Regions from separate parts of the Homo sapiens genome. Here region 2 is linked to region 1. The links come from fine-mapping of genetic effects on gene expression. A gene starts in region 1. The other region holds a variant in brackets. All regions are shown on one strand. Distances are from middle to middle. Region 1 holds the start of C1orf21 (chromosome 1 open reading frame 21). Region 2 overlaps C1orf21 (chromosome 1 open reading frame 21).

The links. PIP is the estimated chance that this variant, and not a neighbour inherited with it, causes the effect. A credible set is the group of variants that fine-mapping cannot tell apart.
Region 2: its variant is the best candidate, but not a certain one, in a credible set for the expression of C1orf21 in whole blood (TOPMed, PIP 0.55).

What each region holds. Positions count from the first base shown.
Region 1 is chr1:184,385,804-184,388,708 of GRCh38, reverse strand. It overlaps C1orf21 (chromosome 1 open reading frame 21), which reads right to left and starts at 1,680. Exons shown (of 6, transcript NM_030806.4): 1 at 1,341-1,680. It overlaps C1orf21-DT (C1orf21 divergent transcript), which reads left to right and starts at 2,005. Exons shown (of 1, transcript NR_172919.1): 1 at 2,005-2,905. RefSeq lists silencers at 1,645-1,904, 1,935-2,044, 2,135-2,194.
Region 2 is chr1:184,594,270-184,597,174 of GRCh38, reverse strand. All of the region lies in intron 4 of C1orf21 (chromosome 1 open reading frame 21), which reads right to left. Among named protein-coding and RNA genes, the nearest start is that of EDEM3, 160 kb to the left of the region's middle. The variant C/T (reference allele first, on the strand shown) is at 1,529.

The DNA.
Region 1 (2,905 bases):
GGTGTTCATTACATCTGTCTGTGTAATGAACTTGTCATTTCCCCAAACGGTCTGGACAGTCTCCTACAAAAAAAAAAAAGAAAAGAAAGAAAAAAATACTCCATGGAATCTATGGTGTGTCAGTCCCCTTCCTAACATCTGAGTCAGACTACGTGTGTCTTTACTGAGGTTCTGGGTGCCCAGGGTGTATCACTTTCAGAATTGCTTCAGTAACTGAACTATGGCTGTCTTCCAGCCACGGACAACACAAGCACTATCTATTTTAAAACAATTTTCCTAACCCACCGGCAATGGAAGAGATCCCATAGGTCACCGACTTCCTATTGAAAACAAATTATTTCTCTCTCAAACTGCTTGCCGTCTCTCAGAATTAATGCGTGTTTATGTGTGCATATTTTTATCTTTGGCCATGCAACTCTTGGAGCAAAGAGGACCACCCCAAATTTTACCGACATGCCTGAGCCATTCAGAGCTTTAGAAGAGAAATGAACGAGTGCTGAGAGCCCTTAAGCCCAGGACTTCTCTCACACAAACAGTAAGTGGAAAGGAAAAAACAAAAACAAAAACAAAAACTAACCCTCCGTAGAGGGAGGGAGCAGGGTGGATGATAGGGAAAGGACATTAACCAGCAGACCAAAGGCAGCCGCGGCGGCGGCACTTCGCGAACTGCCTGCAGAGGAGAGTGAAATCTGTTTCGTGTACAATAACCAAGCACCCTCTGGCTGCCTCGCATGGGCACGAATAATAAATACACCGAGGTGGGCAAACAGATGCAACGAAACGAGCCACCCCAAAAAGGTCAAAACTTCAGAAATCCCGGGGGTCAAACCACCCACACAAACACATCAATCAGTCGGAGCGAGAGAAGGGACTTGGATACTTAGCAAAGGATCCTAAATTGTGTTTTTCCTTTCAAGCTCTGGCTTGCAAAGTACGGTGGCTACATGCAAAGCTAGAGGAGAGCAGGAAGGCTGAGGGCGGCAGGGTGCGGGTGGGAAGGGAGGGGTGTCTAACACCAGCCACCCAGGCCTCGATGTGACGAAAGTCGTCAGCAGCCCCGACCACATCCCAGCCCCTCCGCCCAGGCCGGCAGACGCCCCTCGCGGCTCCCCCACCCCAGCTTCCGTCCCTGGCAGCAACCCCGCCAGCCCCGCACCAGCAGCAGCCCCGGCCCGGGCCCCGCGCAGGCAGCGCCACGACCGCGGCTCCCATCCCTTCCGTGCGGCAGACACCCCGCAGGCCTCCCTCCCTGCCCACCCGGGGATGCCCGGGTAGCCGAGCCGGGGCGGGCTGCACCGCCAGCTCCCCCCGCCCCAGAGCAGGCAATGGCTCACACTTACCTTGGGCGTTCGCGGGGGGGCTGAAGGTGGCAAGCCTCCCGCCCCCCGCCCCTGTCCTCCTCGTCTTTTTTCTTCCTCCCTCCTCCTCTTCTTCCTCCTCCTCCCCACAGTGTGTCCGGGGCTCCCCCTCCTCCCCGCCGCTTGGAGTAAGAACCCAAAACCCCGAAGCCGGGCCCGCGTGCAAGCGTGCGGGAGGCGGCGGCGCGCGGCCAGCTCTCCAGTAACTGAGCGCGGCGCGCAGCTCCCAACTAAAGTGTGAAAGAAGCAGCGGCCGCGGCGGCCGCGGCACGGAACGTCCCCCCGGGAGTGGGCAGGGAGCGAGCGGGAGCTTGCGAGGAGCGAGCGAGGGAGGGGAGCTCCTCGCTCAGTCACTCACTCGAGGGGCGGGGGCAGCAGACACTCCCCCACCGCCGGCCCCTCCCCGAGCCTAGCTCCCGCGCGCGCCTGGCTCTCCTCCCCGGGGCGGGGCCTGCGGAGGCCGCCGGGGCGCAGCGCGCTGGGGAGCGGGTTGGGGGCTGCTAGGGCTGCGGGGCGGGAAGGAGGCGGCAGTGTGTGTGTGTGTGTGTGTGTGTGTGTGTGGGCAGGTGTGTGTGTGTGTGTACGTGTGTGCGCGCGCGCCCTGCAGCGGCCGGCCAGCCGGAGGGAAGACCCCGGCGGGAAGACTGCGTCCCGTCCGGCCTTCCCGGGCCTGTCACTTGGGCGGTGGCGTGGGAGCGGCGAGGCTGCTCGGGGGGCAGCCGGGTGGGCCCAGCTCTAGGGGAGATTCGGGTCAGCCCCTGAGCCCAGCCTCCCGGCTGTGCCTGCTGGAAGCAGACGGAGGGAAGGCCGGGCGTCTTTGGCCCACCGCGCGGCCGCTCCCCTCCCGGGCCAGGCTGAACGGGCGGGCGCAGCCCAGAGGCCCGGGCTCTGCCACCGATCCGCCTCCATACTGACCCGAGCTGCGGCGCCTGCAAGATTAATGAAGCATCCGCGATTCGGTAGAGGCGGCACGGGGAGGAAAGACACAAGATCGTGCTGCCCCCCTCTCCCCACCCTTCTCAGCCTCCTAGGACCTAAAGGCGTAGGCTGCGTCTGCTGGGCGCGTCCGGAGTGGTCCAGAGAGATCGCCATCCACCACTGCATCCGTCCAGTTCTTTGTGGACCCTCACAGAAGCTCAATCAATTTCCCACCCTCTGGAAAAGGGTATTTTTCTCTTCCCTGGCATATTGGGTGTTTCTTGTGTGCACCTAATTGATCTTTTTCCATTGATAGCCTTTGGATGTCTTTTGTGCGGCTTCCCCGCGCTTCACTGCTCCCTCATTGCCTTAGACACGCGAGGAATGTCAGGCCCCCAGAGTGAGAACACCCAAGAAAACAATAGGGGCAAAAGATCCTCCCTGGGCCTCGCGGATTATGCACAAACCAGATCATTTCCCACATTCGGCCAGGGTGAAGATGGAAAATGGAAAAGAACGCCATCAGAGTGGTGACACTGACGAGAAAAGCCAATTCATAATTTAGTTTAATGAAATGAGTTAGTAATCAACCACTAATGTCTAGGAAATTGGCCTTTTTTGAAAACTGG
Region 2 (2,905 bases), 210 kb before region 1:
GTAAACGTTTTGTTTGGGAAACACGCCCTCTCTTATTGCAGGTTTGAAAGGCAGAACAGAATCTGGGATGATGAGAGTACATTAAACTGTCTCCTCTCTGTAGGATCCTGGGCAGAAAAGCCAGTTTGCATAGCTGAGTTTTCCCAGGTTCCTTATGTTTTCACCGTCTCAAGCACCAAAACATTTTTTATTTGAGCCACGTTGGATGCAAATCTTTCTAAATTTCATATTCTTATAATAGAGGATCTCTCTCATAAACACTTCTTTCTTTTCTTTTCTTTCTTTCTTTTTTTTTTTTTTTGAGACAGAGTCGTCTCGCACTTTCGCCCAGGCTGGAGTACAGTGGTGCGATCCCAGCTCACTGCAACTTCTGCCTCCTGGGTTCAAGCAATTCTCCTGCCTCAGCCTCCCGAGTAGTTGGGACTGCAGGCGTGAGCCACCACGTACAGCTAATTTTTTGTATTTTTAGTATAGATGAGGTTTCACCATGTTGGCCAGGCTAGTCTTGAACACCTGACCTCAGGTGATCCACTCACCTCGGCCTCCTAAAGTGCTTGGATTATAGGCGTAAGCCACTGCGCCTGGCCAGATCTCTTTCTCTTAATATAGGTAACTGGATAGATAACCGTATGTATATGTTGCCCCAGAAATGTTGCCCTAGAAAATATTCCAGGGACCTCATAAAAAACGGCATTTTTAGGATTTGACGTTCATTGTGGAAACTCTCTGGTTGGAGGTTTTAGCATTATATTGCCTTGAATATAGCAGGAGGGCCAAAAATATTTCTTAATTAATTGACAGAGTCCCCCTATTTAAGTTCATGTGATTCATGACCCCTTGCTGAAGCAGCAGAGTTTGTCAGCAGGGGTGATGTGCAGGGCCTGAGTCCTCATCTATAAAACCAGGGCTGGTCACTGATGTCCCTTCTACTGTCTATGATTGTCACTAACTTCCATTAGCTCCTTTATTTAAATACCACAACATGAAAACTGCAACGTTTGGTCAGTACTCATACACATGCACATGAGAGGGACAAGAGGGGGCATTTTTAAACAAAAGTAACTCTGCAAATGTATCTGCAACCTCTGCGATCAAGAATGCACTTATCACAGGGTCGGGATCCCTATCAGGAGCTTGAGACCAAAAGTGGTGGCTAAGGACCTCGGGATGCTTATGTAGGAAAGCAACCACAAAACTCTCAGCGATTTCAGTTTTGTGTTGTCCCATAATATAGAAATGCTGCCTGCTTTTTCTTTGTCTAAGAACATTAGAACATGCCTGCCTGCCTTTGCCACATTTCATAACCCACGAAGAAGAGTCACACACCAGACTGAGTCACTCTCTTGACATCTTGAAGTACGGTGCATGGGTTGTGTTAGGAAAGACTGAATGGAAGGAAGCTTGATGCACCAGACAGGCTCCTCCAGATAACCTGCATTGTCACTGGAAGTGTGTCAGACATTGCCGGGGGAGCAAATGCCCACACGGGTCACCTGTGCATCGTCTCAGATATGGTGTCATCCGAAAG[C/T]ATGAGGCCTACTCTGCTGTTCTCCATTGGATTGTTTCAGGGAGAAGAAGAGAAATCTCTTCAATGGGGCAGGGACAGAATTTTTATTCTGATGAAATAAAAATTTCCCCATATCAACTGATTCCTGTCTAGATAAACATGGGTCCCCTCTTCCCATGTGAAAGAAACTTATCCACACAGCACCATGAATATGTGTTTACCTTCAAGAGTACAAACTGCACTGTAGAAAACAGTTCCTGCATAAAGACTTGATTCTAAAATCCTTTCTGATGCACAATTTGATGATTGTGAGTGGGGGAGATGAGGAGGAAAAGCTCACTGGCTTTTCTTTTTTCAAGATATTAGAAAAGGATCACTGAATTGTTTATGACTTAAGTTCATAAAGGATGAATAATTGATTCTAAGATTCACTTACAAAAGATTCACTAGCATTCACTTACAAAAGCCTGCACATTGGTACCTGACTTAACCAATAAGGCTCAATAATTTTAGTAATTCCTATTTCTCTCTCGTAACTAAAACAACCTTGGAAAACTCAATGCAGCACTGGAGCACTCCCTGTGCCCTTGGTCAGCGCTGGCAAAGCTCTTGTGAATTAACTCTGCACCCTCAAACACTCTTCTTCCTGAGACTTCTCAGCTTCATGGGACTAGGGATGACAATACAATGGCATCTTAATGCAAAGTAAACAAATTAATGAATGGTGGGCAAAATGGGCTTTAGAGCTAAAAGATATGGGGCTTTCGCTTTTGGTGTCTTAAAAAAATAAAATCTGCAAATGATAAAAAGCTAAGCCCCAAAGTATGAGAAGGCAAAGTCCTAATTCCCTAATACCTCACCTGTGAAGCCTGGCAGAATAAGCCATCCTAAAATATGCTTACTTTAGCATAAGGACTATTTTGAGCTAAAGACAACTGGAAACAGCAGGTGCAGGAGGGGACTTCTGACCTCCTCTTTTCTTCCTGAAAGAAGGAGATGAAACTCCCATGTGAACAATGCCCTCCCCACACCAGGAGGAAAGAAACATTCTTATCACCAGAGACAGGGAGTCAAGGCCAAGAGAATTCTGTACCAAGAGACTTTGTTAAAATAATTCCTTTCTTCCTTTAGTCTCCCCACATATTTCAGCTGCTTTTCCATAACTGTTTCTGTTTGTTCAACCTAGTATACAAATATGTGGGTTTTGTCACTTCTTGGGTCTTCATTTTCTCATAGGGGCTCCCATGTACATGTAGAAATTGATATCTTTTCTCCTGTTAAATCTGTCTCATGTCAACTTAACTCTCAGGCCCAGCCAGAAATCCTGAGAGGGTTGGGGTAAAGTTCTTCCTCCCCTGCAAAAATGAAATTAAATTACTAGGTGGGTTCCTGGTAAAT